Homo sapiens: one gene and its partners. The protein of the gene in region 5 purifies or fractionates together with the protein of the main gene of each other region. This does not show direct contact. Each region holds a gene or a part of one and is shown on either strand. Other genes may lie near its edges.

Region 1 (4,496 bases), on a different chromosome or scaffold from region 5:
GATTCATGCGAGTCTCTGATGATGACTGATCTTAATTAGGGTACATACTATTATTATCTTTGCAAGGGCAGAAGACCATTAGTTAGAAAGCATCAGTGAGACTGTCTTCCAATTTTTAGGGTAAATGAAAGAGGAGACAGTAAATGGGAGTCAAGGCAACAGAGTCAGAAACACTGCACTAGGAATTTAAAATCAGTACTTCAAAAAGCAGGCCAGGCGCAGTGGCTCACGCCTGTAATCCCAGCACTTTGGGAGGCCGAGGCAGGCGGATCATGAAGTCAGGAGTTCGAGACCAGCCTGGCCAACATGGAGAAACTCCATCTCTACCAAAAATACAAAAAAATTAGCCAGGCATGGTGGCACATGCCTGTAATTCCAGCTACTCAGGAGGCTGAGGCAGGAGAATCGCTTGAACCCAGAAGACCGAGGTTGCGGTAAGCTGAGATTGCACCATTGCACTCCAGCCTGGACAATGAGATCAAAACTCCGTCACCCACCTCCGCACGCCCCCCCCTAAAAAAAGCACTGTGGATTCTTTTCTGACAATGATAAACTAAAGGAAAAAATGTTTAAGAATGAAGAGGTCTACTTTATGAAGATCTTTTTCTCGTAAAGAAAAAGTAATGTTGTATAATTATATAGAATACTAAATAAATGAAATGTTAGAATTTACAGAGTTCTTCTATTAAAGCAATGTAAAACTAAAGTGAAATGATGTGTATTAAGTTATCTGTTTTGTTACAGAACAGACAAAATTGAGCTCTAGTCTGTGCCGGAAAGTCATAATGCAGACTAGTTTGAAAACGAATGCATGTTAAAACATGAATTCTATTTTATATCAGATAGACATTTGAGCTTGGAATTCCTGTAACAGTAATTAGAACTCCATAAATGGGAACAGAGTATCAAGTTTGGTATATTGAATACCATTTTAGACTTCTAAAACCTAATTCAACCTCAACATGGACACATACTGTTTGGTTTTCCATTGTGCAAGCAGGGCTTTTAGAGTACCTGGAACATAGCAGATATTCAGTAACTATTTATTTACTGAATGAACAATGATGGTTAAAAAAAAAAACACACACTCTAAGGTCTGAGTGTGCTGAGAACAGCAACTTCCTACGTGATGTACAACGATGTGCGAATATGATAATGATTACAATTCCATAAGAACTGCCATAACTTTTTTTTTTTACATCATCCTTTGAATAAATATATACTCACCGTAGTGTCCCGGGTATGTGTTCCTTCTTGACAGGGATGGAAATCTGTGGTTCTGGTGAGGGGCGAGGCTCTGAAGGTTTTGAAACTGGTGGTGGAGGACCTACGTCTTTGGGAATTTCAACATGTTTCCAATCTTCTCCTTCTTCTACTATCAAACCAATTAGTGAACCTAGCCGTATATTTTTACTTCCTTCTTCAACCTATATTTAAAAAAGAAGTAACTGTAGAGAAGTAAAACCCCATGACTGCATTAAGTAGTTTGTTCTTTTGTTGGGTAATTCTCCCCTTAAGATATCTTAATTTGAGCTAAAAGCTGCTTCCAAGACAGTTTGCCTCTGCCTTCCACCTGTCACCTTCTCCACTTTCTCCCACTTATGCCTTCCTTCACCATTCTCCTCTTCCCACTTGCTAATGCTACCTTCTGAAATAAAGGATAAATCTAGAATGTATCCTCTTTCTGAGAGCCTTCAAATAAACATGTAAGATCCATCATTATCATCTTCTTTTTGATGTCAATACAAATCCAAACAGGAGCCTGTGGCTACATATCTTAACCATTTGTCTTTCCCAGAGAGTTTCTATGCAATGGCTTTAGAATTCTAAAAGCTCAGAAGGGATTAACTCCCTCAACTTAGTCCAATCTACTAAAATTTACCTAATGCAAGAATCTTTTCAGTAAACTTAGTCTGAAAAGATGAACATTCTAATGTATAGATAGAACTGGTTAACTATTCCAGTTAATGTTAAATATAGTCTACTTCTTTATATTTAATTATTTCCCTGTATATCTATTTACAAAACCTGAAAAATAAAATAAAACCTCATGAGTTTTTTTATAAGTATATCAGAAACACAGTGGTGTCTCAGTTAATAAAGCATTTCTTCCACAGATAATGCCAATTAAACACTTAAATAAAATCAAAGATAATGTTTTTAAAAGTTAAGTATATTTTAAGCATTTCAGCAGCATTAATTTATAAAGAAAGGGCTAATTCTAATTTACTTACTAAAAAGAAGTCCCTAGAAAACCTTCAAATAACAATATTTTATAAGTTCACTCCTGGAAGAAAATGTCATTCCCTTAAAATCTTCTATTATTCCCTTTCAATTACTCTAAATAAGGTTCATTAGCTGTATTTAATGAACAATAGAATGATAGGCTGCAGGACGTCCACTAATACAGTAATGGTAAGGAAAAGCATAACTTCTAGAATGAGTTTGACATATCAGAGTAACACTAATTTCAATGCTTACTGGTATGTTCACTATCGTTAATAAGGCATAAGTTATAAGGGGTTAGGAAGCTAAGTTTACTAATTACTGATGAAGAAGAAAAGCAGCAATGCTTTCATGAAGCAAAATACATATATATATATATGAAATTAGTATAGAAAGCTGAATAGGAATGTTTAATGAATTACAAGCTATGGAAGAATACTAAGAAAGCCAAGAAAAATCTAGTTGCTTAGTTGTTTGCCACATACTAAAAAATTTTGCTTCTGCAGAGTTCCTTTTTCTTTACTATGTCAAAAAGATGAGTTAAGATTATTATTAGACCAATATTTTTCTTCTAAAAGTGTTTAATTACCTGCTTGTGAATTGCTAACTCAAAAATCAAAGTAAAATGACTAATTTTCTTTAAAAATGTATACAAAAAAGCACTGTTAAGTGACATGAAGTCCACTTGATGTTAATTCCTTTCAAAACTGAATCAGAAATAGGATCAATATCCAAGTACAAAGAACATCATTCAAATGTAAAGCATTAAAAAAAGTTTTGCTTTAAAAATATCAATAGATTTCTAAAATCTGAGTCAGACAACTGTACTACATCTGAAAGTGGTACCTCACCTTCTGTTTCATTTACTGTAAATCATATAAATGATTCCATATATACTCTACCAACGTAACATTGACACCTTCACAAGTAGGCAATAAACAGCATTTATCATCATTTCAATTTTTACCATTATCTAAATATCAAATAAAATTTATTTTTAACTATTCACATTTTTTTCTATTTAAAAAAGTGACACCATGAAGCATGAAACCCAAATACAATGGACAAGGACAAGTGATATACAACCATACAACTTGAATATATAACAGAAGATAAAATACAGTTGATTATAATTCCATTTAAAGTCATTAAAATCTCTATATGAATTTAAGATAATTTCTTCAACCTTTTCTATTCCTTTGGTGCAGAGATCTTTCAGAGGTGTGCTAATTTCCTGTAAGCATTTGCTTACACTGTAGTAGGCAAATACTCAAAACTGGTGTAGACTTAGTATAAATACGTAAATAATACTCTTTGCAAAACTGTTTAAAAACCAAGCAGGCCTCTGTTACTGTTCCCTTTCCTCTCTGAGCTACCTCCATGGTAGCTCATGGTACCTCCATGGATACACTCTGCCCTACCAAAGCATCTGGAGCTAAGGACACCTCAAATGCCAGAGTTTTCTTATGCACTCAGCTTACTTGACCAAAGCCCTCTCTTACTCTTCTGCCAATGATTTCTTAATATTAAATGCAGGGTTTTTACACATAGCTCTATCAACTTAGAGCTCATCGATACTGAAATATTGAATGTTGAGTCTATCATTTCAAATATTAGCCTTCCCTCCCAGTTGTGTACAGACTTCCTGAGTTTCAACGCTGGCTCCACCACTTACTAGTTATGTGACCTTAGTAAAGTTTCCTTATCTCACCATGCTTGTTTTCTGAGCTGTAAGATGCAAATAACAGTAGCTACTTCACATTGTTGTTATGAGGAATAAATGAGTTATATGTAAGGCCCTTAGAATAGTGTCTGATAGCTAGTAACTTGTTTTCATTTTCATTGTTAAAGGCATTATTATTGCTGTTGTTATTGCTGTGGTGTTTTCCTTCAAATTATGGATTTTTTAAAACAATACATTCAACATGGATCAAGATTAGACTACAGGGGACTGACCCCTTGGTATGGGTTAGAAATTCATGCTTAAAGGCTTAGCATGTGGCTGGCAGCACTAAAGGGCAAACATCAACATATACGATAATGGGTAGTAAGGTCTGTGACAAACTATTTCTTCATAATTCTCAGACAGAGGCTGAATTCTATCCCTCAAGCCCAGGTCACTAGTGTGAGGCTTCTGTACCAGAGACATTCTCACATCTTAACCAATCAATCACCTGCAAATGTGCTACAAACAGCTCACCTAATCTCATCTGTGTACACAGGGATATGAGATGCAAAACATTTACAGCAGTATGTCCAACAGAGAAATT
Region 2 (4,496 bases), on a different chromosome or scaffold from region 5:
TAAATTTCAACTTTAAAAATCTGTAACTAAATTTCAGTATGTGGGATTATATTCAATCATGCTTTAAATGTATTTTACTGGTAAATTTCATTGTGTTCTGAGATTATTTTGTATGGAAATAATCTGCCTGTTCCCTATTTTAACATTAGAATAGTGAAATTTATACTGTAAACCTTAGCATACATTCTGCATATTAATGCTGTTATGGTACTTTTTAAAATTCTGTGCTTCGTGATTTATTTGATTTGTTCCAAGTATCAGTTTCTTGTTCCTTTTTATCTACTGAAAAAAAGAACTAGTTTTATTATTGTATCTGATTGCAATTAGATAATGCTCATCTAGTACTAAATATTGTATATGCTTAAGCTTTTTTGTCAAAATGTTTTTTATTCCACAAAATTGTATTCCTGAAAAATATTTTTTCTATACTAATTAATAGGTAAAGACTTTTCTTTCTTATCTGTCCCAAACACTGGGATGTTAAGCAGTGTACTCTTCAACTAAGTATCTGACAGACAACCTGATATTTAATTGCTAACTAAAGTATCTGTACAGTTGCAAATTATTCTGGAAGTATAACAAAAGAGCAGTTACGTGCCATTTGAAGAATGCTTGGTGAGTAGATAGTATTGACTGGAGCATTCAGTGTTGATCTGTTTCATTAAGAAATGGGATACTTTTGATGGGAAGAAATATCTTTATTTCATTAATAACCAAAATTTCTAATCAGATACCCTAGGTTTTTATTTACTTACTCAAAAATTTCATAAAGGAGTGTTCAGCAGTGAGTTAGCCATTGTGAGAGATAAAAAACATCTGTCTGGTAGTGTGGTTGATTAAACTGGATATATTGTCCAGTTTAGCAGAAATGTTTTAGCCAAAGCCAGTGACATAGCCAATGTGTGTTGCTGTTAAAGCCCACTTTTATATCAAATAAAGGTGGAAAAACAAAACAGCAAAAGCAAAGTTAAAGAAAACCTCATAAAATCTACTTACATACAAACAGGAATTGCAGAAAGTATAGAAGTGGAAAAGAATCCCAAGCATGCATTGTTGAGGTCTGAAAAACAAATGACACATAGCAGAGAACAAGTCATTTTTTAAGTATATCCATAAGTAATAAATGATATAGAAAATATTACCCTTTGAAACACAATATTTATTGAATCGTTGAATAATACCTACCAAATTTTGAACATTTCCTAGGTGCCAGGAAGTTTATGTGTGTGTGGTGTGTGTGTATTTAATTTCTGCAACAAACTTCTAAATTAAGGTATTATTTTTACACATTGAAAAAATTTGAAGCATAGAGTTAGTGAATAACTTTGCCTCTGCGTTACACATTCCTAAGTGATAGGGCCTATAATTGAACCTTTGTCTTTTTGGCTAAAGCCAAAATTCTTTCTACTCATCTTTTTTAGTAAGTTAAAGGGTACCACTTATTTCCTTACTCTGGTTCATAAAATTTTAGAATTCAAGGGAACTTTAGAAGTCAGCTCATACAATGTATCACCCACTACTAATATCTCTGAGATGTTATTGGGTCCAACTTCTCCACAAACCCTTCCCTGGGCATAGGAAAGCCTGTTTAGCTTCCAAAAAGTGTAATAGGAAGATCTCACTTAAATTGAGCTAGTAGCTGCTTTTACTATATAACTTCTTCCCACTGGTTGCAATTCAGTCTTTAGGAGTAAGATGAAGTAAGGTTTTTCTCAATATATTAGCTAGATTTTCTCTTGTCTAAATGTTAGGACACCTCCAACTTCATATGGTTTCCTTTGCCATCCCTCACATCTCTCAGCTGGATTCAATCAGTTTTGTCAGTGCTATTCTTTGTGTTCTGATCTTGTTTCCATATTTAATTCTGCAGTTATGGTCTGAATGCAAAGTGCAGTGAAATTGTCCCTTTCCTTATTTCAAGCCATACACTTGTGTTTAAAGTCTAAAATTGTATCAACTCTTTAACAACAGTCATCTCTGCTAATTCAAAGCAAAAAGCAGAGAGAGAGAGAGAAATGTTACATGGCTTTTCAAGTTATATTTATGTAATTCAAGGTACTATTTTTTGAGATTTTGTTCTCCTTTTCTAATGTTCATAAATGGCCTTTATTAAATGATAGTGTTAGTAACACCTATTAAGTAATGATAGGTTAAGTTTCTTTTGATGTTGGTCATGGGGTTTTGTTTTATTTTAGTGTTCCTGATTAACCAATAAAAAGTTGGCAGCCTTATGTTGATTCTTAATTTGTTTTCTGAAAAATTGGTCTGGAAACCACTGATGTAGTCAACATAAACCAACATTTTTACACTTAGCTAGATTTCTCCCATTGTGTATAAACACACAGGTGATGTTTTTAAACCAGTATTTTACCATTGCCTCCTATTAAATTTCATCTCCGTGAACGTAGCTATAGTTAAAACTTGAGATCTTCTTGAATCATGATTCTGTCATCCAAGGGATTAGCTTTCCTTCCTGGCTTTTTGACATTTATAAATTCAACAAGCCAAACTCTTATGTCTCCATCCTGGCCATATACTTAATATAGCCAAGGACAAAGCCATGCACATTTATAAATAGAATGAATGTTACATAAATAAAAGATGCTGGGAGGAAAGGTGACACAAAAATAATGAAAACCATTCGGATGGGTTTTTTTTGTTTGTTTGTTTTTGGGGCCTTTTTGTTTGTTTTTGTTTTTGTTTTTTTGAGACGGAGTCTTGCTCTCTCGCCAGGCTGGAGTGCAGTGGCTCAGTCTCGGCTTACTACAACGTCTGCCTCCTGGATTCAAGCTATTCCCCTGCCTCGGCCTCCCGAGTAGCCGGGACTACAGGCACGCCCGGCTAATTTTTTGTATTTTAGTAAAGACAGGGTTTCACCATGTTGGCCAGGATGATCTTGATCTCCTGACCTCATGGTCCACTGCCTAGGCCTCTGAAAGTGCTGGGATTACAGGTGTGAGCCATGGCGCCTGGCCTTGTTTTGTTTTTTAAATTAAAGAGAAAACCATTATATCCTCCAGCAGTAAAGGAATTAGATGAAGTTTACAATATACTGGAGGATATGGATAATTCTTTTACGATGTAAAGTCAAGTAAGGATAGATGCTATGAAGAAAAATTAATCAAGGTAAAGAGACAGTGGTAGAGGACTGCTGTTTTACATTTGTTTTCAAGTGTTCATTCAGGTAGTTTTCAAATAATATTTTGAAAAGAAATAATATGAAAAACCTTTTCACCCTACATCTTATCTGCTGAGTTACCACTTTTGCCAATCCAGTAAGTAGCTATTTTTATTATTTCTTATGTATTCTTCAATGAACTTTATTTATTTATTTATTTATTTATTTATTTATTTATTTTGAGACAGAGTCTTGTTCTGTCGCCCAGGATGGGGTACAGGGGCAGGATCCCAGCTCATTGCAGCCTTGACCCGCTGGGCTTAAGCAATACTCCCACCTCAGCCTGTTGAGTAGCTGGGACTACAAGTGTGCGCCACCATGCCCAGCTAATTTTTTGTAGAGATGAGGTCTCACTATGTTGCCAAGGCTGGTCTTGAATTCCTGAGCTTAAGTGATCCTCTTTCCTCAGCCTCCCAAAGTTCTAGTATTACAGGCATGAACCACCACGCCTGGCCATGAATTTTTCTTCACCTCAAGCAAATATAAATACATATTTTGTGTCCCCTCTATGACACAAAAAAATAGCCTCTTTATCCACTATGCTACACCTTGAGAACTATCTTAGAGTGGTTAGGGAATCCCTCTTTCTGAGGTGACATTTAGCAGAGAACTTGCATTAGGTAAGGAAGCATCTTGTAGGTATCTGAGTGGAGAGTATTCTACTCAGGTGCGGTGGTTCTGAGGCAGGAATGGGATAAGTGAATTTGGAGAACACTGTGGCTGAAGGTGAGTGAGGAAAAGGTGCTTATAGGAGGAAATGAGGTTGCATAGAGATTTTATTCATTGATTTTAAGTGCTATGAGCATTCATTGGAGGATTTTGAGCAAAGCCAAAAAATTGGGTTATATTTTTAAAGAATGGCTCTGGGAATTCTTTAAAACACTGGGAACCATGAGATAAGCTAGGAAATGATTGGAATGATCTGGTTTAAGAGACATTAATGGCTTAGACTAGAGCGACAGTAGTGGCAATAGTGAAAGTTACTAGTTTCTGGCTTTAGAGAGTCAAATGTTTTGGATATGTTAAGTTTGAAGTGTCTGTTAAACGCCCAAGTGGACACATCAGGTAGGCAGTTAGATATGTAAGTCAAGCATTCAGAGGAGAGGTTTGGACTGAGGATAGTTAAATGTTAAGCATCACCAGTAGACTTAAAGGGATCTCTTGGCTAGGGAGTTAGACTGAGAAGAGATCCAAGAATTGAGAATTGGTACTTTCCACATGGAAAGCTGAGCAAAAGAGAAGGCGCCATCGAGGAGGATTGAAAAGTGGACAGTGGGGTGTGAGGAAACTGAAGAGTGTGTTGTCCCACAAGCCAAGT
Region 3 (4,496 bases), on a different chromosome or scaffold from region 5:
AAAAACAGAATCCTAGGACTATCCCCAATAGAAATATGTACATTTTTGTACCAAAATGTTGTACATAACGCTCATAGCAGCATTATCTATAGTAGTTCAAAATTAGAAACAATCCAAATGTTCATCAACAGATAAATAAAATGTAATATTTCCACACAATGGAAATTGCTATAGCAGTGGGAAGAACAATGCATTGTTACATGTAACAGAGCAGATGACACTCCATACATGTGTGAAAAGGCACAAAAGAGTATGTGTTGTATGAGTCCATGTATATAAAGGTAAAAAAATAGGTAAAACAAATCTGTGGACTAGAATTCAGAATAGTGGTTACCTTTGAGGGGTGAGGTAAATGACAGGGATGGAGAACCTGAGAAAGGCATTTGGGGTGCCAGTCATGTTCTGTATTGTGATCTGAAAGGTAATTACCCAGTTGTGAATTGTGTTCACTTTGTAAACATTCTTTGTGTTGTACCCTTAAGATTTATACACTTTATTACATGTATGTTATAGTAAATGAAAATGCTTCCCCCCTAAATCCTCTGAGCAGGCAAATGGTAATAATAATGGAAGCTACTAGTTATCAGATGTCTGCTATGCCTTGGTTTCCTCATCTATAAGACATAGAGAATATTAGAATATGCTTCATTGCCTTCTTGTGAGGAGACAGTGAGAGAAGTCACATTGGATGATTGGCAGAGTAACTAATAAACATCAGTGATTGTGGTTATGTGCCCACCACTGTTCTGGTGCTTTACATAAGTCATATCACTGGATCGGTTCTTACCGCTTTGCCATACGGTGGCATTGTTCCCATTTTTCAAATGAGGAAAATGAAGACTCTTAGGATTTAAGTCCCTTGCCAAGGTCACACAGCTAGTAAGTGGCAGAGTATGATTTCATTTCCAAGGAGTTGATGATCAGTTTCTGAGGAGATGGAAGCCATTTTATGATGGACAAATAGAGGACGGTGTAAGACAAAATGGAAAGTTGCGAATTATGGGCTGCGTTTGGGGCCAGGAAATCCGGGTGCAGGCCTGGACTTTGCCCCCATTTTTCTATGATAACAGAGAAGTAACTGGACATCTCTGGGCTTCATCTCGAATGTGAGTGTTGAGCTAGATTTTGTTCCCTTATGTGCCTTCTGGCTCTGCAATTTTGCAATTCTCCATGTTTGTCATTCCATACAGGGCATCTTCATGACCTGACTTCATGAGCTTAAACTCATTTTTCATATAAAACCCTATTCCAGCATTTTCTCAGAACTGTCCCTAAATCTCCCTATCCTATAAGCAGAAGTAATTGCTTCTGTATTGCATGATCACTGCCCTATACCAGCTGTTTACCTGTCTGTGTCCTCTATAGACTATAAGCTCCCTGAGGATAGGGATTCATTCATTTCTTTATTCTCATACGTGCTACCTGGAACATTCACACCAGCCAGAAATCTTTGTTTAATTAAATATTTTAATCAAGAGAAAGTCCTTTTTGAGTAATATGTGAGTGGACAGCCTCAGGCGGTGCTGGACCTAACGTGGAGACCTAGAGAAAAGTTTGCCTCCATGTTTTTTGTTTTATTAGAGGTCTGGGAGAAACAATAACAGAATGGCTAGATTAAAAAAAAAAAGACATTAGATGACTTTGCAGCTCCCTAGAATGTACCTGTAAAATCTAAAATTTGATCAGTGATTAAGCATCAGTGAAAATTTAAACCCTTCCCATATTGAACAACCCCACTTAATTTAATGTCATTTTATTTTATGAGATAGTTAATAAACAGGTACTGTATTTGATCTTGTGAGTGTAGTCCTCTATATTTAGCTTTTTCAGCTTTAATGGAACTATAATTTTAATCATGATTATTACTTTACATTTTAATTATAATTTGGTGTGGCTTAAGTATACATTTCTGAGAGTGATTGTGTAATGAAAACAGGAATTAGCTTTTCATTAACAAAATAATGGGAGAGTTCCTACTGCATTCTAGTCTGTGTTCAAAATCTATGGGCTGGCCTAAAAATAGAAAGAGGAGTTTAACATTTTGGTTAAAAACATGCTTCTAAATTGGCTGTGTTCACAACCCAGTCTCTTGCTCCATCTTGCTTTATCTTCTTCTCTTTCTTTTCAAAAAAATTAATAAACTTTTAAAAGAGACTTTGTGTCTGAGATTTCAAAAGGCTTTTTCAATTGTTTTTATTTTTATTTAGATAATTAGCACCATGGAGCCTCAGGTGTCAAATGGTCCGACATCCAATACAAGCAATGGACCCTCCAGCAACAACAGAAACTGTCCTTCTCCCATGCAAACAGGGGCAACCACAGATGACAGCAAAACCAACCTCATCGTCAACTATTTACCCCAGAATATGACCCAAGAAGAATTCAGGAGTCTCTTCGGGAGCATTGGTGAAATAGAATCCTGCAAACTTGTGAGAGACAAAATTACAGGTATGCACAGGATTTGAAGCTATGTTGTTCCATTAGATGTGCAGATCTTAGCAGAAATGCACATGTGTGATGGTGCACCTGAATGTCTATATCATGTACCCTGCATGCAAGATGGCATGGATACACAGTCATAAACTCACACTACATACACCACATAAGACCTTATTGTAGATTGGTACTGCTGGGGAGCAGATGAAGATTTTGGTACATCTTCATCTTCATGTAAAATGATCCTTTGATTTTGTCTCCTTTTATTCTTAATCAGCCATTCCTTCCCTTTGTTCTATAGTTTCCAGTCCCACAACTCTGCCCTCCCTATACTATACACTAGTTTTTGCTCATGTATTCTCCTCCTCTCAATATTTGCTTCATGTGTGCCCAGTGTTCTTCCATGTGCCTGAAACAAGTGTTTTAAAGGGGGCCACTGTGGATGTGTGGACAGTTGACACAACTGCCCTTGTCCCTGGGGAGAAACAGGCCCTAAGGATAGCAGATTATTCTGGAATACAACTACTCTGCAGTAGGAGGGAAATGCTTAATGAAGATCTGCATTTGAGGTATTTTGTTTTATTTTATCTGTCTGTTCGTTTTGAAGATACTCTTTGAGATGTGAGGGCATTTTTACTTGAAAGTGAATCAACACCCTATACAACTTCAATACATGAGATTTTTAGGTTCTGATTTTCTCCTAATTGACAACTGTTCATTGAGAACCAAATGTTTGCCAGACACTGACACTATAATTCTTTGGGGGAAAGTTTCCCTATAATCTTATTGGCAGTGAGAATATTTTCTTGGAATATATTAGGCTACATAATGATGGCAGTGAAGCTGCTACTCTCTGATACTCCACTCCTGAAATCATTCATATCCAACTTTGAATACTTGTCAGTTTTGAGTATTGACTTTTGTTTCCCTTTCCCTAGACAGTTTAATTAATCAGCAACTGTCCTAGAGTTTTTTTTTTTTTAAAAAGGAAGCTGCATCATTAAAATAGGGATATACATCATCTTTATTTTAAATCAGAGAATACATTCTATATGTGTGTGTGTAGATATATACATTCTTCTGTTCTCATAATTCACATGTAAATCTGTTCCCCTTATAAATTAAGTAGTTTGCAAAATCATAAAACTTAAATACCACTGCTACTTTCCAAAATACAAGTCACCTAACACTCCAGACATAATTTTCTTATTTGAAAAACTGGAAGATAATGCTTGTCTCAAAGGGCTTATTGTGAGGATTAAATGAGAGACTAGATATATTGCATCTAGCACAATGTCTACTGCACAGTGGTCCCTCAGTAAATAAATCTATTATTGTAAGTACAGCTAGTATGCTTCAAGGAAAGTGGCCAGAACAGAAAAAAAAGTATCTATCAAATTCTCCAAATAGGGCCAGGCTTTGATTATCTTGTACCAGAGCACTGGAACATCTATCCTTAAACAGAATTTCCCATACGTTCAGAAAGCCAATATTTAGATTCCTGAATAATCTTTATATAATAGGATGATAATTCAAACCAAATTAAAACCAGTTAACCATATGATTCTTCCTCCTACTCCTATATAGAAAATGTATTTTTAGTATAGCCTTACCTTCAAAATACAGACTCTGCCAGCTATATTAGTGAATATTATTAATCACCTTTTCAGAATTCCTTCAGAACTGTAGCGAGATTTTTGAGAAGTACTGATTCATGGTGTTGTTCCTTGTTTTCTAAAGACACATGTTTAAACAAGCAGATTCCTTTACTGAAAGAATGCTAATTTGGTAGTTCACCGAGTGGATTTGAATAGGAGTGACAGCTTCGAAGACAGCCTTTAATTTGGTATACAAAACCAAAATTGTCAACTTTGGTTTGTTTAGCACCCTCTCCAGCACAAGCAGAGACATACAGTAGCATCTGAGCTTAAAGAAGAAGCTTATGGGGTTGAAAGCAGAAATACAATTCAGGCATAAATTTATAATTATGCATTCTTCTTAAATTCAGGCCCAAAAAATTTTTATTTGTAGAGAGCTTATGGGAATGAGGCAGGGAAATA
Region 4 (3,852 bases), on a different chromosome or scaffold from region 5:
TTCCTGAGATGTCCTCTATCAAGCTTCAGCCCAAATGTCACCTCGAAAGGCCTTCCCTGACCCTTCACCAGCAATGGATCTCCCCAACCTATCTAGAATTATACAGAGCTCTAATTCCTGCATCTGTTTGACTGTATAGAAGGTGAGTGGCCATGAGGGCAGGTGCGTTGCCTGATGTTCCTTCTGCTACAGTGCCCGGCACCTGGGTGGGAACTGGCAGGATTTTTTTTTTTTTTTTTTTTGAGACTTGCTGTGTCACCCAGGCTGAAGTACAATGATGGTGTGATCTCAGCTCACTGAAACCTCTGCCTCCTGGGTTTGAGCGATTCTCCTGCCTCAACCTCCTGAGTAGCTGGGACTACAGGTGTGCACCACCACACCCCAGCCAAGAGTGGCTTTTTTAGCAGACACCCCATGTGGCCAGATGCCTGCTGTCTGGGGGAGCTGGTAGCAGTGCTGGGAGCTCGTGGAATGTAGAACTTCTGAAGGGGAAGCAGTTATTGGTCCCAGCTGCTCGTGGCCTGGGCCTGCTGCCAGGATCATACAGTGGGCAAGCCTGCCTGGGTTTCTTGTTTTATTTTGTTTTATTTAAAGAGACGGGGTTTTGGCCAGGTGCGGTGGCTCATGCCTGTAATCCCAGCACTTTGGGAGGCCGAGGTGGGCGGATCTCCCAAGGTCAGGAGTTTGAGACCAGCCTGGCCAACATGGCAAAACCCCGTCTCTACTAAAAATACAAAAATCAGCTGAGTATGGTGGTGGGTGCCTGTAATCCCAGCTACTCGGGAGGCTGAGGCAGGAGAATCGCTTGAACCCGGGAGGCGGAGGTTGCAGTGAGCCAAGATCGCACCACTGCACTCTAGCCTGGATGACACAGCAAGATTCCATCTCAAAAACAAAAATAAATAAATAAATACATGAAATAAAGAGATGGGGTTTCACCAAGTTGCCCAGGCTGGTCTCAAACTCCTGGCCTCAAGCGATCCTCCCACCTCAGCCTCCTGAGTAGCCGGGATTATAGGTGCAGGCCACCATACCCAGCTTGGGCAAGCCTGTTCATGGGTCCTCAGTTTCCCCTGTTGCAGATGGGGACACCACCACCGTGGACTTTGTGGGATCTAGTGTGGCCTTGGCCCAGAGGCCCTGAGCCATGATATGGCAAAGCGTGGACTGCTGGGCAAGGTAGGCACATGGTGATCACAGCAGCCCCAGTGAGTTCTCAGGCACTGGCAGGGGGCAGGTAAGAGGGTCTGGCTCCTCCCTGGGGCACAAATGGGCCCCACTGGGTAAGCACCTCACACTGGTCTGTGGCAGCTCTGTGGGCAGTGTGGGAGGACTGGCCCTGAGGTCATGGCTGCAGTTCCTGAACTTCTTGGGAGCGCTGGTCCCATGCTCTCCACTGACAGACACGAGTCCTCTGGGCATCACCTTCTACCCTCCCTCCCCACTTCCACTTGAAGAGGGCTTTGTGGATAGGCCCAAACAGACACCAGGAACCATTCCTCAAAGCTGTCAGTTTATTCGCTTAAAATACCTAAGTCCTCAGAAGCAGCAGGGCTGCGGTGGAGGGGCTGCGCCCTCAGTGCCCCCGTGCCTTCCTCCGCACGGCCTGCACCAGCAGCTCCGAGTAGTGTTCCAGCAGGGCCTGCAGGTCTGGGCTGGCCAGGGGGTACAGCGTCGGTGGGGACGGGGGTCCTGGGCTGGGCAGAGCCTGGGCTGGGGCCACACTAGTCCCCACCAGGCATTCAGCCTCCAGCTGGCTGTGGATCCACAGGAAGGTGGAGACCAGCTCAGTCCGTGCCTGCTGCTGCCCGGTGTCCACCTGGCCACTGGAGACCAACTGCAAGGGATGCCAGCCTTGTCAGGGGCCACCAAGGCCGGGCGGTCTCAAGAGACCCCTCAACCCTTTCCCAACTCTGGGGCTTAGCTCACCACACGGTAAAGGTCGAGGGCTTCTTGGAAGGTGGTCTGCAGCCTGTGCAAGATGTTCCCCACCCTGCTCAGCTCAAGGGGAGATGGGGGCAGGGCTTCAACCGGCACCCAGGGCTCACTCCAGCGGGCAGGGCTGCCCTGTAACAGACCAAGTGCACCTGGGGTAGAGAGAAGGGAATGAGCAAGATGAGCTGCATTCCATTGGTGTGAGCGGCCAGAGCGACTGGGTGGACTCCATGCTGTACTTCTGTCTGGAACACTTCTCTGGGTCCCCAAGGCTCCCTCCCCTTCACTCCTACAGGTCTCTGCTCCAATGCAGCCTCCTCCCTGAAGCCTCTTCTTATCTTCTGGTTTGTAATCCCAACCCCTGTCCCCACCCTGCACTCCCTCGCCCTCCTCTGTCCCTCCTAAGCATGTGTCACTTCGTGATACATATGACGGGTTCCTTAAAGGTTTAGTCTGGGCATTGTCCCCATTGAAGCTGTCAGTTCTCTGTGTTGTTTACCACCATGTCCCATGTCCCAGGGTTTAGCACAAAGCCCAACATGTAATGCTCATTAAATATTTAAGTTAATGCACGAATGAATGAATGGCACAGTCCCTGTGGCCAGGTCAAGTATCCATCTTTGGAGCTGAGCCAACTAGCACACAGGATGAGCTTAGGGGACAGTCCTTGCTCCAGGGCTGTACTCACCGGAGGTGGGCTCCAGGAGGGAGGCAGTGCCGCCAGGGATGCCAGGCCGGGCCTCTGGAAGCTGGGGGTTACTGGGGTGGGCAGGAAGGCCAGGGGACTCAGGAGCTGGGAGACTTGGGCGAAAGGCAGAGCCGTGGAGCCTCAGGGCGCTCTCTTCCACAGGGCTAGGGGCTGGGAAGCTCACTGCAGGGACGGTGACGCCAGGCTGGGTATCCACGGGGGGCTGCAGGAGCCCATCACAGGCACTTGACAGGGTCAGTCTCAGGTTGGCCCGGGCCTCGTGGTTGCCCCAGGAACGCAGGGCAGGCTCTTGGCCCTCACTGTCCAAACTGGGTGTTGTCGCGGTGGTGATGGCCTGAAGCTCCTGGCCCAAGGAGGCCAGCTCCCCAACGGACGATGGCCTACGGAGGGGCTGGGCCAGTGTGGCCACGATAGGGCCCTCACTGTCACCGAGGGAGATGCTGCGTGATATCCTGGCACGGGAGCTGGCAGTGGCCTCCATGTAGGAACAGGTGGAGGGGGCATGGACACCCTGAGCCAGGCCTGGGGTGGGTGCAGATGTGGGCGTTGGGAGATTCCTGTCTGTGGGCAGCACGGAGGAAGCAGGGACACAGGACGCCAGGCTCGTAAGGCAGGGAGCTGTAACGGAAGCAGATGGCACTGACTCCACCACACAGAACTGATGGCTAGGGCCCCCACGCCCCACAGCTAGGCTGGACATCCGGCCACTCGCCGAGAAACCCAGGACTGTCCGTCTGGGACTGGGGCACTCACGTGGTGGGCGCCAGGCCTCCAGGGTCTCTTCAGCCTTCCCTGCAGCGAGGACCTGCAGGCACAGCTCTGAGGTGAGGACAAGGCCTCAGGGTTCCCAGCCCCGTGCCCTGACGGAGGTGGGCCCAATACTCACGTGGGTCCTGTCTGGGGAGGCGTAGCCAGTACCTGCTCTGGGCTGGCTTCCGCCTCGGTCCATGAGCTTGACCTCTGGAGACTTCACAAGGCACTGGGTTGCCCGGGGAGGGAAGGTATGGGTGAACCTGTGGGGAGGAGAGCAGGGGGGATGATTCTCATTCAGCCTGCCCTGGGGCACTGTTGAGGAGCCAGAGGGTGGGCAGTGCTTGGCCAGCTTCTACCTGGATGCCTTCTGGAGGCTTGAGAGGAACTGCGTGGAGATACTCAGGCGTGGGTTGAAGAAGTGGTCTTCAGCTTCAGAGGCCTCCACGTCTCCCAGA
Region 5 (4,496 bases):
ATAAACAAAGGGGGATAGCAGGACTGGAGGTGAGAGAGGTAAACAGGGACAGACTGTATACGGTTTTTAGGCTCTTCTAAGGACTCTGAGGAGCTGCTGGAAGGTTTGCAGCTAAGGAGTAAGATGATTCGACTTAGGTTTCTACAGGCTCCCTCTGGCTGCCTTTCTGAGAACAGACTGTAAGGGGCTTAGGAGAGAAACAGGGAAACCAGTTAGGAGAATATTGGGATAATCTAGGCCGCAGATCATGGTGGGTTGGAGTAGGATGGAAGGAGTATAGGTGGGTGAGAACTAGTCTGATTCCGATACTTTAAAAGTAGCCAACAGGAATAAATGAAATGAGATGAGATGAAGTGAAATACACAATGTTGAGAGAGGAAAGTACACCTTAGTCAGCCTGGGGAGAGCCAAAAAGGGTGGTGAGCTTTGAGCTGAGTCTTAAAGAGGGAGCAAGGAGGCACCGGGCAGATGAGAAACAAAAGGAAGGAGAGACAGCCCAGGCAAAAGCACAGAGGTGGGAGTGGGCATGGTGTTCGGAAACCACTTAGCAGAAAAGAGGCTAAGGAGTGGGCAGGGCAGACTGTGAAGGGCACGCTAGTTTGTTTTCCTGTTCCTCAAACGGGCCATGCCCTCACCTGTGTCTGGGATGCTCATCCCCTCCTTTTTCCTTACCTACATCTGACTTATTCAGGTCTCCGCTCCAATATCAATTTCTTGGGAAACTCTAGCCTGACCCACCTCCACACCAGAGGAAATCTCCCTTTAATCCCCTCTCACAGCACTTGATACATCTTTGCTCCTGACACTGACCATACAAATTCTCATAAGGGTTTGTCTGTCTTCTCAGCTTAACAGTAACCACATTTGAGGTTGAATTTTAGCACTGAGCCCAGAGTCTGGCATGAAGCAAATGTATACTATCGGCTAAATTAAGAAATAGGCTGGCCAGGCACAGTGGCTCATGCCTGTAAACCCAGCACTTTGGGAGGCTGCGGCGGGTGGATCACCTGAGGTCAGAAGTTCGAGACCAGCCTGGCCAACATGGTGAACTCTGTCTCTACTAAAAATACAAAAATTAGCTGGGTGTGGTGGCACGTGCCTGTAATCCCAGCTACTCGGGAGGCTGAGGCAGAAGAATTGCTTGAACCCACGAGGCGGAGGTTGCAGTGAGCCGAGATCACACCACTGCACTCCAGCCTGGGCAACAGAGCGAGACTCCATCTCAAATCAGACTTGTTGGATTTTGCATTTAAAGTAAAAGTTGCCAATGAGTGCAGTGGCTCATGCCTGTAATCCCAGCACTTCGGGAAGCTGAGGCAGGTGGATCACTTGAGTCCAGGAATTCGAGACCAGACTGGGCAACATGGCAAAACCGTCCTGCAAAAAATACAAAAATTAGCCAGGTGTCGTGGCACACGCCTGTAGTCCCAGATACTAGGGAGACTGAGATGGAGAATTGCTTGAGTCCAAGAGGTCAAGGCTGCAGTGTGCGTGATCGCACCTCTGCACTCCCAGCCTGGGTGACAGGACAAGACCATGTCTCAAAAAAATAAAAAGTAAAAATAAAGTAAAAGTTAATAGGTTCCTCAGGAAAACATGAAGGTGCCCTGTAAGTTAAGGGATTTTCCAGAAATAAACCGTGGGACTCTTTTCCTGTCTGCTCCAAAATCTCCCTCCTCTTGCACATATCTCAGCACTGTGGAGAAGAGAAAAAAAAGAACAAGTCAAAATATCTTAGAGATATTTTGCAAAAACTAGCACTACCCACAGAGACGCTTAAGCATTCACTTTTTTCAGAAATAAAAATTATGAAGAATGCTTAGCTAGACCCAAACTGCAAAGTCTCCTCATAATCCAGCTTAAACACAGTACGCTACTTATTTACTCAGAGCCGTCTCCTGTGGTCTAACCAGCTATTTGTCTCCAAAGGGCAGGCCCGTGTAGGAATGCGGGGCCTCAGCCGGCAAACAGGATCCAGCAGCCTGCCAGGAAGGCCTTGGCACGCTACAGTCCAGATGGCAGCTCTCCTGGGCCTCCAGCCACTGGCCTAGCTGCCAATTCAATGTCCAGCCTCCGTGCAGTTGTTCAGTTCAGCAAACGCTCACTGAATCCCTATAGCTTTAGTAGCAACAAATGAAACTCATGAAGTATGGCCAAAAGGACAACAATTCCTCTAGTCCAGTGTTTATGAAAGGAGGTGGAAAGCAAATCAATACATACAAAAAATACTGAGCACCTACGGTGTGCCAGTTCAGGGAAGCCTCTGGGCCCCAGAGATATGAAAGCTCAAGATGCTCACAGTCCAATGTCTACTTTCCTTGTTCTTTACTCAAGAGAATGCCTGGTTTTGTGTACTTACGACCATTTCCCAACCCAGCATTGGGGTTGATGCCATCCAGGTCATCTGGTACACTGGGAACAAGGCCACTAGGAGAGAACACATGAGATAAGAGATGAGCTAATGTTTGAACAACAGAGACTGTTAAGACGGTCTGGACTGCACATGACAATCATCCCATGGCCAGGAGGGATGCACACAGCTGGGCTACCTATGTGGCATGAAGCACAGAGGTTAAGAACTCAGGCTTTGGGGCTGAGTTCCAGCTCCAACACTTGATAGCTGAGTGACCTTCAGTAACATCATTCATTCAGTCATACATCAAATGTTCTGTGTGCCAAATATGTGCTAGTGGCAGAGGCACTGTGACAAGTACAAGATACTTATGTTTCTGAGTCTCACCCTCTTAATCTGGTACATGAGGATACCATGCCCTCCCTGTAAAAATTAAATTCGTTCATGTATATAAACACAAAGCACATAGTAAGTATTCAGTAAACGGCAACTATTGTTGTTGTTACTATTATCATTATGACTACTAATATGCCTATCACCACCTCTGGGAATCAGACACCAATTTAGATGTTTTAAGAATGTCAAACAATGCAAAATTCACTGATCCAAGAAGTTGTCTTGGTTGAATTACATAAATAAATTCAGTGAGGATCTGGAGACACTGACAGAAAACTAACCCATAATAGGAGGTGTGGTGTGACACAAAAGACACTACCCTGATCTATTCTAAGCTCTGCCATGTATCTCTCTGAGCCTCACTTTCTTTAGCTGTAAAATGAGTACAGCAGCTACCTCACAGAGTAACTGGCAATTAAACAAGATATTGCAAGGTACCTTGTGGGTACTCCACAAATGGGAGCAAAATATCATGTCGCCTTGAAACCTACAGTGCTTTACAATTTATAAAAGATTTACCATCATTAGAATTGCCTAATTCCCTGAGGGTGCACACATTTTTCAAAGGAAGGCCCCAAGGCCCAGACAATTTTACTGTCCTAGCCAGGGTCACATGGCGGTTCTGTGGAGAGCCAGGTCCAGAAGCCAGGTCTTTTATGTCCAACTCCCACGAATACTTCCCTATCCCACACTGTAAAGTAGGAGTTGATGGAAACAGCTTGACTTCTTGGCAATTTGCTCTTTCCATGCCTCTAAATCCAAATTCATTGTGCTCCTAGGATAATTTTGCCTGACCACCAAACTTTGGAGTTGGAATGTACCTTCAAGATCAAAAACAGGCAAAAAATTGGAAATATCATAAAATTCCAACATTAAGAAAATGATCACAAAAAAATGTGTCCGGGCTGGGTGCAGTGACTCATGCCTATAATCCCAGTATTTTGGGAGGCCAAGGCTGGTGCATCACTTGAGATCAGGAGTTCGAGACCAGCCTGGCCAACATGGTAAAACCCCATCTCTAATAAAAATACAAAAATTAGCCGGGCATTGTGGCAGGTGCCTGTAGTCCTAGCTACTTGAGAGGCTGAGGCAGGAGAATCACTTGAACCCAGGAGGCAGAGGTTGAAGTGAGCTGAGATCATGCCACTGCACTCAAGCCTGGGTGATAGAGTGAGACTCCATCTCAAAAAAAAAAAAAATTTAAAAAAAAAAGTGTCCCCTGTAAAGGTAAATGAAAAAACGTAAACAGAATATGTCCTCAATTATGAAAACAAATATATACAGTACATAAATACTGAAGTCACCTCAAGTCCATTTTGGAAATAGGTGGGCTACAGATATATAACAAGACAAAGGAAATATACTGAAATATTAAAAATCATCATTAGTAGGGAAATGAGAGGTTTTCTTCCTTTTTAATGTTATATAATTCTCAATTTCCTCCAATAAACATCACTAAAAGGACAAAGTCAATTTTCTAAACTGAATTTTAAAAACTAAAATCAAGTTCAACCATCACCTTTTGCAGATGGTGGTCCAGAAGCCCAAGGTCACATACACCAGGTTATTGGCCAAGCTCAGCCTAAGGTCTGGTCCTGCATTCTCAATCTGGGGTTCTCTCCGGGTACCAGAGCCATTACATTAACTCCCACTGGCTAAAACTGCCCATGAATAACTCAAGCCAAGATCAATCACAGCTGAAAAGTACCTAGCAAACAAAGCCAAAGATTCTGGTCTTAGACAAGCT
Region 6 (4,496 bases), on a different chromosome or scaffold from region 5:
CTCAGTACCTGAAAATAAAGATACTACTAGATGAGTGAAAATTGAAAACATCCATGTTTGAAAACAAACACTAGGTTATTTAAAGTAATGCCTCCATCTGGGAAAGGTAAATTCTAGCTAAATAGACTTGTTTAATTAAGATTTAAACACCTTGAGATTTTTATCGGGAAAAATATTCTACTTCGGAAGCACTGAACTGTTCAATCCTTCATTCAAGTCTTACTTTTTTTTTTTGAGACAAGGTCTCACTCTGTTGCCCAAGCTGGAGTGCAGTGGCACAATCTCTGCTTACTGCGGCCTCGACATCCTGGGCTCAAGTGAACCTTCCCTGCCTCAGCCTCCCGAGTAGCTGGGACTATAGGCACATGCCACATGCCTGACTAATTCTTTGTATTTTTTGTAGAGACGGGGTTTTGCCATGCTATCCAGGCTGGTTTCAAACTCCTGAGCTCAAGCAATCTGCCTGACTCGACTTCCCAAAGTGTTGGGATTACGGGTGTAAGCTATCGTACCTGGCCTCAAGTCTTACTTTTAAACAGAGAAAGAATGTATTAGGATATGCTGATTTATAATCAGAAAATTCATAATCTCCTAGATAGCCATCTATTCCAAAACATTACCCACTTTCATCACTACGTTTGCCTGAGAAATCTTGCAAAGAATCAAGCAGTCAAATCTGGTTGTCAAAATCCTGTAGTCAAAAGTAACTATTGTAGGCTGGGTGCAGTAGCTCATGCCTGTATCCCAGAACTTTGGGAGGCCAAGGCAGGCAGATCACGTGAGGTTGGGAGTTTGAGACCAGCCCGGCCAACATGGTGAAACCCCATCTCTACTAAAAATACAAAAATTAGCCAGGTGTGTTAGCAGATGCCTGCAATCCCAGTTACTCAGGATGCTGAGGCATCCTGAGATGCCTGAGGGAGAATTGGTTGAACCCAGGAGGCGGAAGTTGTGGTGAGTTGAGATCGCACCACTGAACTCCACCAGCCTAAGCGACAGAGCAAAACTCCATCACAAAAAAAAAAGTAACTACTCTAAAAGGAAACAAGTATATGCATGGTGTGGTGAATACTAAAGTAAAATAATTAGAGTAGGGCTCAATAAAACAATGTGCCAAGACAATTTATCTTTCTTACCCTCTCAAACTCAAGGTTTTTCGAATTCAATTGCTGGGTCATAATATCTTTGCCTGAATCAAGTTTAATGCAAAGTTCTCTAAGAGATGACAAGTCATTTAATACTGTTGCTTTCTCATCTTCTTGATGTCTCAGCTCTTCTTCTAATCGAGACATGGCTTTTGCCATTGATGAGATCTGAGATTCATAAGCATGATGGGCATTTATGTGCTGAAAAAAGAAAAAGAAACAAGTAAAAAGTTAAAATAACCCAATAATTTTAAGAACTTGAATTTGTACAGCCAACAATCTCACTTTAGAAAAATATGACAGCCAATTTTTGCTTATTTTAAAATACTCTCAGGAAGCTGCCTACTATTTAAAGATGACCTATTTAATGCTTAACAAAATGAATTGTGTATAATTATTAATCATGGTAACTGAGTATCTCATGTATATATTTATATATTTGGAAATGTAAAAAAGAAAGTTATTGTATCAGGGTGTTGTGAATATGAGGGATTTTTGAGGTTGCATTAAATTTTTCCTTTAAAAATTATCTTTGTTATAATAATGTCATTTCAAGAAAAAGTAATATATATACATATCACTCCTCAACTGTCTTCAGTTAAATTCTAAATTCCAAAAATGGGGTTTACTTCAAAACTATATACCTGGATAATTTAAATTTAACTTAAATAAATAGTAAACAACTTTAATATTTTAATAACTGAAATAATGAAAAAAATTTCAAATAATGATAAATTTTTTTTTCTAGAAGAATCCACAGTTGAAATTTCTCACAATTTGAATTATGAGTAATAAATACAAACTGATATAAACTCTACTTCTAGGTTTTGGGGAGAATTCTGCATTGAAAAATAAAATTATTGCAAGAGGCTATTAAAACGGCTGGGTGGCTCACGTCTGCAACCCCAACACTCTGGGAGGCTGAGGTGGGAGGATCACTTGAGCCCAGGAGTCTGAGACCAGTCCGGGAAACATAGTGAGAACCTGTCTCTACCAAAAAATACAAAAATTAGCTGTGTGGTGGCACATGCCTATAGTCCTTGCTACTTGGGAGGCTGAGGCGGGAGATCACCTGAGCCCACGAGTTCAAGGCTGCAGTGAACTGTGGTTAAGCCATTCCACTCCAGCCTGGCCGATGGTGCAAGACCCTGACTCTTAAAAAAAAAACTCCACAAATCCACATTGAAAATCTAATATTGTGCTGTGAAGATTTAATCAATTTCAAAAATTGCAGAAAAGTATTTAGATTTTTTAGTGCATTAATAAAAGCTCCCCTAAACAAATATAATACTTTAGTATTGTATTGTGAAATTGGCTTATACTTTAGTAACAGCCAATTTCATATACCACATACGAACATGAACAATAATAAAGAACAAAATAATTGAAGATTAGTTGAGAACAGTTGCTGAAAAACTCTTTTGAAGGTTGAAAGGCACTCCTTTAATTAGTTATTATACCCTTCTTAACAGAAAAACTTTTAGAGATAGTGTATTAGTTCCCTAGGGCTGCCATAACCAACTACCACAAATTAGGTGTTTTAAAAAAACAAAAATTCATCCTTTCACAGTTCTGGAGGCTGGAAGTCCAAAATGTGGGTGTTAGCAGGGCTGGTTCTTCCAGAGCTTCTATGGGAGAATCTGTCCCATGCCTCTCTCCTAGCTTCTGGTGGATGCTGCCAGTGCTTGGTGTTCACTCACTTGCAGACATATCACTCCAATCTCTGCCTCCATCTTCACACAGCCTTCTCTGTACGTACTGTATCTAAATTTCCCTCATCTTTGAAGGACACCCATCATTCACTAGGTTAGGGCCTGCCTTAATCCAGCACAACCTCATCTTAACTTGTTCACATTTGCAAAAACCCTGTTTCCAAATAAGGTCATGTTGACAGATACTGGGGATTAGGATTTCAACGTATCTTTCTGGTGGACACAATTCTCCTACCCTCTGATCCCCCAAAATTCATGTCCTTCCCATATACAAAACACATTCACTCCATCCTAACATTCTAGCATCAACTCTAAACCCAAAATCTCATCTAAGCATCATCTGAATCACATATGGGTGAGACTCTGAATATGGACCACACTGGGACAAAATTCTCCTCCATCTACAGACCTATGACACTGGAAAACAAGTAAACTGCTTCCAAAATAAAATGGTGGGATAGGCATACCATAGAAGTCCCACTGTAAAAGGGAGAAAATAAAAGGAATAAAGGAGTTACTAGTCCAAAGTAAGTCTGCAACCAAGCAGGCTGAATCCATTAGATTTCAAAACCCAAAAATAATCATTTGTGCCTTCATTCTCTGGTGCTCTGTTCTCTGAGCCAGCCAGGGGGGCCCCACCCTGTGTCCCACAGGGGCAGTGGCCTTGCCCTCTGAAACCAAGCAGACAGACAGTAGCTCCATCATCTGGACCTGTGATGTCTGGGCTTGTGGTGGTAGCCACAGCCCCACCAGCCTCTGAGTTGCCCTTGGTGGCCTTGCTGGTCTCTGAGCTACCCTTAAGAGTCATTCTGTCCTTTTCTTGAAGGTGAACTTGCAGCCAACTAGCTCTGTTGGTCTGTCTTCTGCTAGTAGGATCCCAGAAGTCCAACAACCTTCCTTCTTTTCATCCCATTTCTGTTCCTTTCAGTCAAAGCTGGAAGTGATTCTGCTGAGATGATTGATTGGATTCATGAGTCACATATCTAATCTCTTCACCAAGAGGTTTTCTAGCCATACTCTGGAGCACACTATCTGGATAGGCTAAGAATTTTCCAAAATCATCAAGTCCTGGTTTATTTTTTTTTCCTTTTTTTTGAGACAAGGTCTTACTTTGTCACCCAGGCTGGAGTGCAGTGGCATGATCTCGGCTCACTGCAGCCTTGACCTCCTGGGCTCAGCCCCCCAAGTAGCTGGGACTACAGCCACGTGCCACCATGTTTGGCTAATTATTTGTATTTTTTGTAGAGATGGGGTTTTGCCATGTTGTCCAGGCTGGTCTTGAACTCCTGAGCGTAGTTTTTTGGTGGACACAGGTGGATTGCTTGAGCGATCTGCCTGCCCTGACCTTCCAAAGTACTAGGATTACAGGTGTCAGCTACCACACCTGGCTTCATGTCTTGCTTTCTTTTTTGCTTTTCAGTTCCTTGCTCCATTTCTCTCTTTCCTCTCATATTTTACTGTAAGTAACAAGGAGAAACCAGGATGTCTCTTCCGCACTTTGCTTGGAAATCTCCTCAGCTAAATATCCGAGTTCATCCCTTACAAATTCTACTTTTCTCCCAACAGTAGACCGTAACTTAGCCAAGTTCTCTGTCACTTTATAACAAGTAACATCTTTTCTCAACTCTGTCTGAGACAT
Region 7 (4,496 bases), on a different chromosome or scaffold from region 5:
CTCTACTAAAAATACAAAAAATTACCCAAGTGTGGTGGCGCATGCCTGTAATCCCAGCTACTCGGAAGGCTGAGGTGGGAGAATTGCTTGAACCAGAAGGCAGAGGTTGCAATGAACCAAGATCCCGCCACTACACTCCAGCCTGGGTGACAGAACAAGACTCTGTCTCAAAAAAAAAAAAAAAAAAAAAAAAAGGTGTTTTGGTTATATACCTAGGAGTGAAATTGCTCTACCTATGATAATTCTATGTTTAACTACTTTTTGAGGAACCACCAAATTGTTTTCCACAGCAGCTGAACCATTTTACATTCCCATGAGTAATGCACAAGGGTTCCAACATCTCCACATCTTGGCTATTTTCTGTTTTTAATACCAGCCATCCTAACAGGTATGAAGTATCTCATTGTATGCAATGTATTTTTCATTTATTATTTGTAAATAGAAATCCACCTTGTAGTGATTTCTATAATTATGTAGCGCAGCCACCTGAGACACCAAAAATACTTAAATACCAATAAAATAGGGTACAAAGATTTTAAGTCAACTCAATTTTGAAAAAGGTATCAAAGATGACAAAGAATGACGATATAATACAAAAACTTGTCACTGAATTATAAATTACCTTGGACAGTATGGCCATTTTCACTATATTGATTCTTCCTATCCATGAGCATGGAATGTTCTTCCATTTGTTTGTATCCTCTTTTATTTCATTGAGCAGTGGTTTGTAGTTCTCCTTGAAGAGGTCCTTCACGTCCCTTGTAAGTTGGATTCCTAGGTATTTTATTCTCTTTGAAGCAATTGTGAATGGGAGTTCACTCATGACTTGGCTCTCTGTTTTTCTGTTATTGGTATATAAGAATGCTTGTGATTTTTGTGCATTGATTTTGTATCCTGAGACTTTGCTGAAGTTGCTTATCAGCTTAAGGAGATTTGGGGCTGAGACAATGGGGTTTTCTAGATATACAATCATGTCATCTGCAAACAGGGACAATTTGACTTCCTCTTTTCCTAACTGAATAGCCTTTATTTCCTTCTCCTGCCTAATTGCCCTGGCCACAACTTCCAACACTATGTTGAATAGGAGTGGTGAGAAAGGGCATCCCTGTCTTGTGCCAGGTTTCAAAGGGAATGCTTCCAGTTTTTGCCCATTCAGTATGATATTGGCTGTGGGTTTGTCACAGATAGCTCTTATTATTTTGAGATACATCCCATCAATACCTAATTTATTGAGCGTTTTTAGAATGAAGGGTTGTTGAATTTTGTCAAAGGCCTTTTCTGCATCTATTGAGATAATCATGTGGTTTTTGTCTTTGGTTCTGTTTATATGCTGGATTACATTTATTGATTTGCGTATATTGAACCAGCCTTGCATCCCAGGGATGAAGCCCACTTGATCATGGTGGATAAGCTTTTTGATGTGCTGCTGGATTCAGTTTGCCAGTATTTTATTGAGGATTTCTGCATCAATGTTCACCAAGGATATTGGTCTAAAACTCTCTTTTTTGGTTGTGTCTCTGCCTGGCTTTGGTATCAGGATGATGCTGGCCTCATAAAATGAGTTAGGGAGGATTCCCTCTTTTTCCATTGATTGGAATAGTTTCAGAAGGAATGGTACCAGTTCCTCCTTGTACCTCTGGTAGAATTTGGCTGTGAATCCATCTGGTCCTGGACTCTTTTTGGTTGGTAAGCTGTTGATTATTGCCACAATTTCAGATCCTGTTATTGGTCTATTCAGAGATTCAACTTCTTCCCAGTTTAGTCTTGGGAGAGTGTGTCGAGGAATTTATCCATTTCTTCTAGATTTTCTAGTTTATTTGCGTAGAGGTGTTTGTAGTATTCTCTGATGGTAGTTTGTATTTCTGTGGGATCGGTGGTGATATCCCCTTTATCATTTTTTATTGCGTCTATTTGATTCTTCTCTTTTTTTCTTTATTAGTCTTGCTAGTGGTCTATCAATTTTGTTGATCCTTTCAAAAAACCAGCTCCTGGATTCATTAATTTTTTGAAGGGTTTTTTGTGTCTCTATTTCCTTCCAAGGTAATTTATAGATTCAATGCCATCCCCATCAAGCTACCAATGACTTTCTTCACAAAATTGGAAAAAACTACTTTAAAGTTCATATGGAACCAAAAAAGAGCCCGCATCGCCAAGTCAATCCTAAGCCAAAAGAACAAAGCTGGAGGCATCATGCTACCTGACTTCAAACTATAATACAAGGCTACAGTAACCAAAACAGCATGGTACTGGTACCAAAACAGAGATATAGATCAATGGAACAGAACAGAGCCCTCAGAAATAACTCCGCATATCTACAACTATCTGATCTTTGACAAACCTGAGAAAAACAAGCAATGGGGGAAGGATTCCCTATTTAATAAATGGTGCTGGGAAAACTGGCTAGCCATATGGAGAAAGCTGAAACTGGATCCCTTCCTTACACCTTATACAAAAATTAATTCAAGATGGATTAAAGACTTAAACGTTAGACCTAAAACCATAAAAACCCTAGAAGAAAACCTAGGCATTACCATTCAGGACATAGGCATGGGCAAGGACTTCATGTCTAAAACACCAAAAGCAATGGCAACAAAAGCCAAAATTGACAAATGGGATCTAATTAAACTAAAGAGCTTCTGCACAGCAAAAGAAACTACCATCAGAGTGAACAGGCAACCTACAAAATGGGAGAAAATTTTCGCAACCTACTCATCTGACAAAGGGCGAATATCCAGAATCTACAATGAACTCAAACAAATTTACAAGAAAAAAACTAACAACCCCATCAAAAAGCGGGCAAAGGATATGAACAGACACTTCTCAAAAGAAGACATTTATGCAGCCAAAAGACAAATGAAAAAATGCTCATCATCACTGGCCATCAGAGAAATGCAAATCAAAACCACAATGAGATACCATCTCACACCAGTTAGAATGGCAATCATTAAAAAGTCTGGAAACAACAGGTGCTGGAGAGGATGTGGAGAAATAGGAACACTTTTACACTGTTGGTGGGACTGTAAACTAGTTCAACCATTGTGGAAGTCAGTGTGGCGATTCCTCAGGGATCTAGAACTAGAAATACCATTTGACCCAGCCATCCCATTACTGGGTATATACCCAAAGGACTATAAATCATGCTGCTATAAAGGCACATGCACACGTATGTTTATTGCAGCACTATTCACAATAGCAAAGACTTGGAACCAACCCAAATGTCCAACAATGATAGACTGGATTAAGAAAATGTGGCACATATACACCATGGAATACTATGCAGCCATAAAAAATGATGAGTTCATGTCCTTTGTAGGGACATGGATGAAATTGGAAACCATCATTCTCAGTAAACTATCGCAAGGACAAAAAACCAAACACCGCATGTTCTCACTCACAGATGGGAATTGAACAATGAGAACACATGGACACAGGAAGGGGAACATCACACTCTGGGGACTGTTGTGGGGTGGGGGGAGGGATAGCATTAGGAGATATACCTAATGCTAAATGACGAGTTAATGGGTGCAGCACACCAGCATGGCACATGTATACATATGTAACTAACCTGCACATTGTGCACATGTACCCTAAAACTTAAAGTATAATAAAAAAGAAAAAAAACTTGTAAACTTTTACTCATCTGAGGCTAATTTCTAAAATCCTAAAGTGTTGTGTAAATAAAAATTGTCTCAAAGCAGGTTACTGCTTTGTGATTTACAGAGATGACAGTGAAACAAACCTGAAATAAAGCTTTTAAAAACAAATTTGTCCCTGGAAGATTGTTGTCACTGTCCTCAACTTAAAGATAAGAAAATCTGAGATCAAACAGGTTTGAGAATTTGTCCAAGACCACAAAGCAAACCTGTGGCAGAGTTTAGAAAATAATTTCTGATTTCCCAAAAACCCATGATGTAATGTGCAATAAATCAAGGGAAACCCAGAAGAGCCCTTGTTACTCCTTTAGCATGAATACACTTAGGGAGATTGCCCAGTGCACTGAAGCTTGTGACCTCCCACAGCAATGACCGTTAATTAACTCCTTCCCTGCCGTGACTTGAATACTGGGCCAGACCAGATACAACTCAGAACTAGTTTTGTGTGTGTGTGATCTAATAACACTAAGATCCTAACTTGGCCTCTCAAATGGTTTCATTGTTTTGTTAAATTTTAGTTGTTCAAAAGTAGGCCAATTCTACTGTTAAATTGACAAAGCATATGTTGAAGCAACCAAGGAAACTGTAATAGCTTCTTAACACTCTTGCGTAGATCAGATGTAGAAAGTGTTATTTTGGACAGGAGCAGTAGCTCATGCCTGTAATCCTAGCACTTTGGGAGGCCAAGGCAGGAGCATTACTTGAGGCCAGGAGTTCAAGACCAGCCTGGGCAACACAGGGAGACCCCGTCTCTATAAAACACTTAAAATTAGTAAGGCATGGTGGCACATGCCCTTAGTCCCAGCTACTTGGGAGGCCCAGGTGGGAGGATACCTTGAGCTT

What was found.
Region 1: the proteins of CDK5RAP2 (region 5) and PDHX purify together in Homo sapiens (co-immunoprecipitation; one large-scale study listed by IntAct). This does not show direct contact.
Region 2: the proteins of CDK5RAP2 (region 5) and CEP170 purify together in Homo sapiens (co-immunoprecipitation; 2 studies listed by IntAct). This does not show direct contact.
Region 3: the proteins of CDK5RAP2 (region 5) and ELAVL4 purify together in Homo sapiens (co-immunoprecipitation; one large-scale study listed by IntAct). This does not show direct contact.
Region 4: the proteins of CDK5RAP2 (region 5) and WDR62 purify together in Homo sapiens (co-immunoprecipitation; one large-scale study listed by IntAct). This does not show direct contact.
Region 6: the proteins of CDK5RAP2 (region 5) and CEP135 purify together in Homo sapiens (co-immunoprecipitation; one large-scale study listed by IntAct). This does not show direct contact.
Region 7: the proteins of CDK5RAP2 (region 5) and PRKAR2A purify together in Homo sapiens (affinity purification with western blotting; 2 studies listed by BioGRID and IntAct, with this or other methods). This does not show direct contact.

Annotation. Positions count from the first base shown.
Region 1 is NC_000011.10:34,954,315-34,958,810, reverse strand, and holds part of PDHX (pyruvate dehydrogenase protein X component, mitochondrial isoform 1 precursor), read right to left. Parts: intron 1,428-4,496; coding exon 1,228-1,427; intron 1-1,227.
Region 2 is NC_000001.11:243,248,281-243,252,776, reverse strand, and holds part of CEP170 (centrosomal protein of 170 kDa), read left to right. Parts: intron 1-4,496.
Region 3 is NC_000001.11:50,142,750-50,147,245, forward strand, and holds part of ELAVL4 (ELAV-like protein 4), read left to right. Parts: intron 1-2,207; coding exon 2,208-2,448; intron 2,449-4,496. UniProt on the Homo sapiens protein: RNA-binding protein that is involved in the post-transcriptional regulation of mRNAs. Plays a role in the regulation of mRNA stability, alternative splicing and translation.
Region 4 is NC_000019.10:36,102,753-36,106,604, reverse strand, and holds the end of WDR62 (WD repeat-containing protein 62), read right to left. Parts: coding exon 3,754-3,852; intron 3,658-3,753; coding exon 3,531-3,657; intron 3,450-3,530; coding exon 3,398-3,449; intron 3,263-3,397; coding exon 2,624-3,262; intron 2,088-2,623; coding exon 1,930-2,087; intron 1,838-1,929; coding exon 1,577-1,837; 3' UTR 1,497-1,576; downstream 1-1,496. UniProt on the Homo sapiens protein: Required for cerebral cortical development. Plays a role in neuronal proliferation and migration.
Region 5 is NC_000009.12:120,569,615-120,574,110, forward strand, and holds part of CDK5RAP2 (CDK5 regulatory subunit-associated protein 2), read right to left. Parts: intron 2,428-4,496; coding exon 2,360-2,427; intron 1-2,359. UniProt on the Homo sapiens protein: Potential regulator of CDK5 activity via its interaction with CDK5R1. Negative regulator of centriole disengagement (licensing) which maintains centriole engagement and cohesion. Involved in regulation of mitotic spindle orientation.
Region 6 is NC_000004.12:56,014,498-56,018,993, reverse strand, and holds part of CEP135 (centrosomal protein of 135 kDa), read right to left. Parts: intron 1,347-4,496; coding exon 1,137-1,346; intron 1-1,136. UniProt on the Homo sapiens protein: Centrosomal microtubule-binding protein involved in centriole biogenesis. Acts as a scaffolding protein during early centriole biogenesis.
Region 7 is NC_000003.12:48,841,375-48,845,870, forward strand, and holds part of PRKAR2A (cAMP-dependent protein kinase type II-alpha regulatory subunit), read right to left. Parts: intron 1-4,496. UniProt on the Homo sapiens protein: Regulatory subunit of the cAMP-dependent protein kinases involved in cAMP signaling in cells. Type II regulatory chains mediate membrane association by binding to anchoring proteins, including the MAP2 kinase.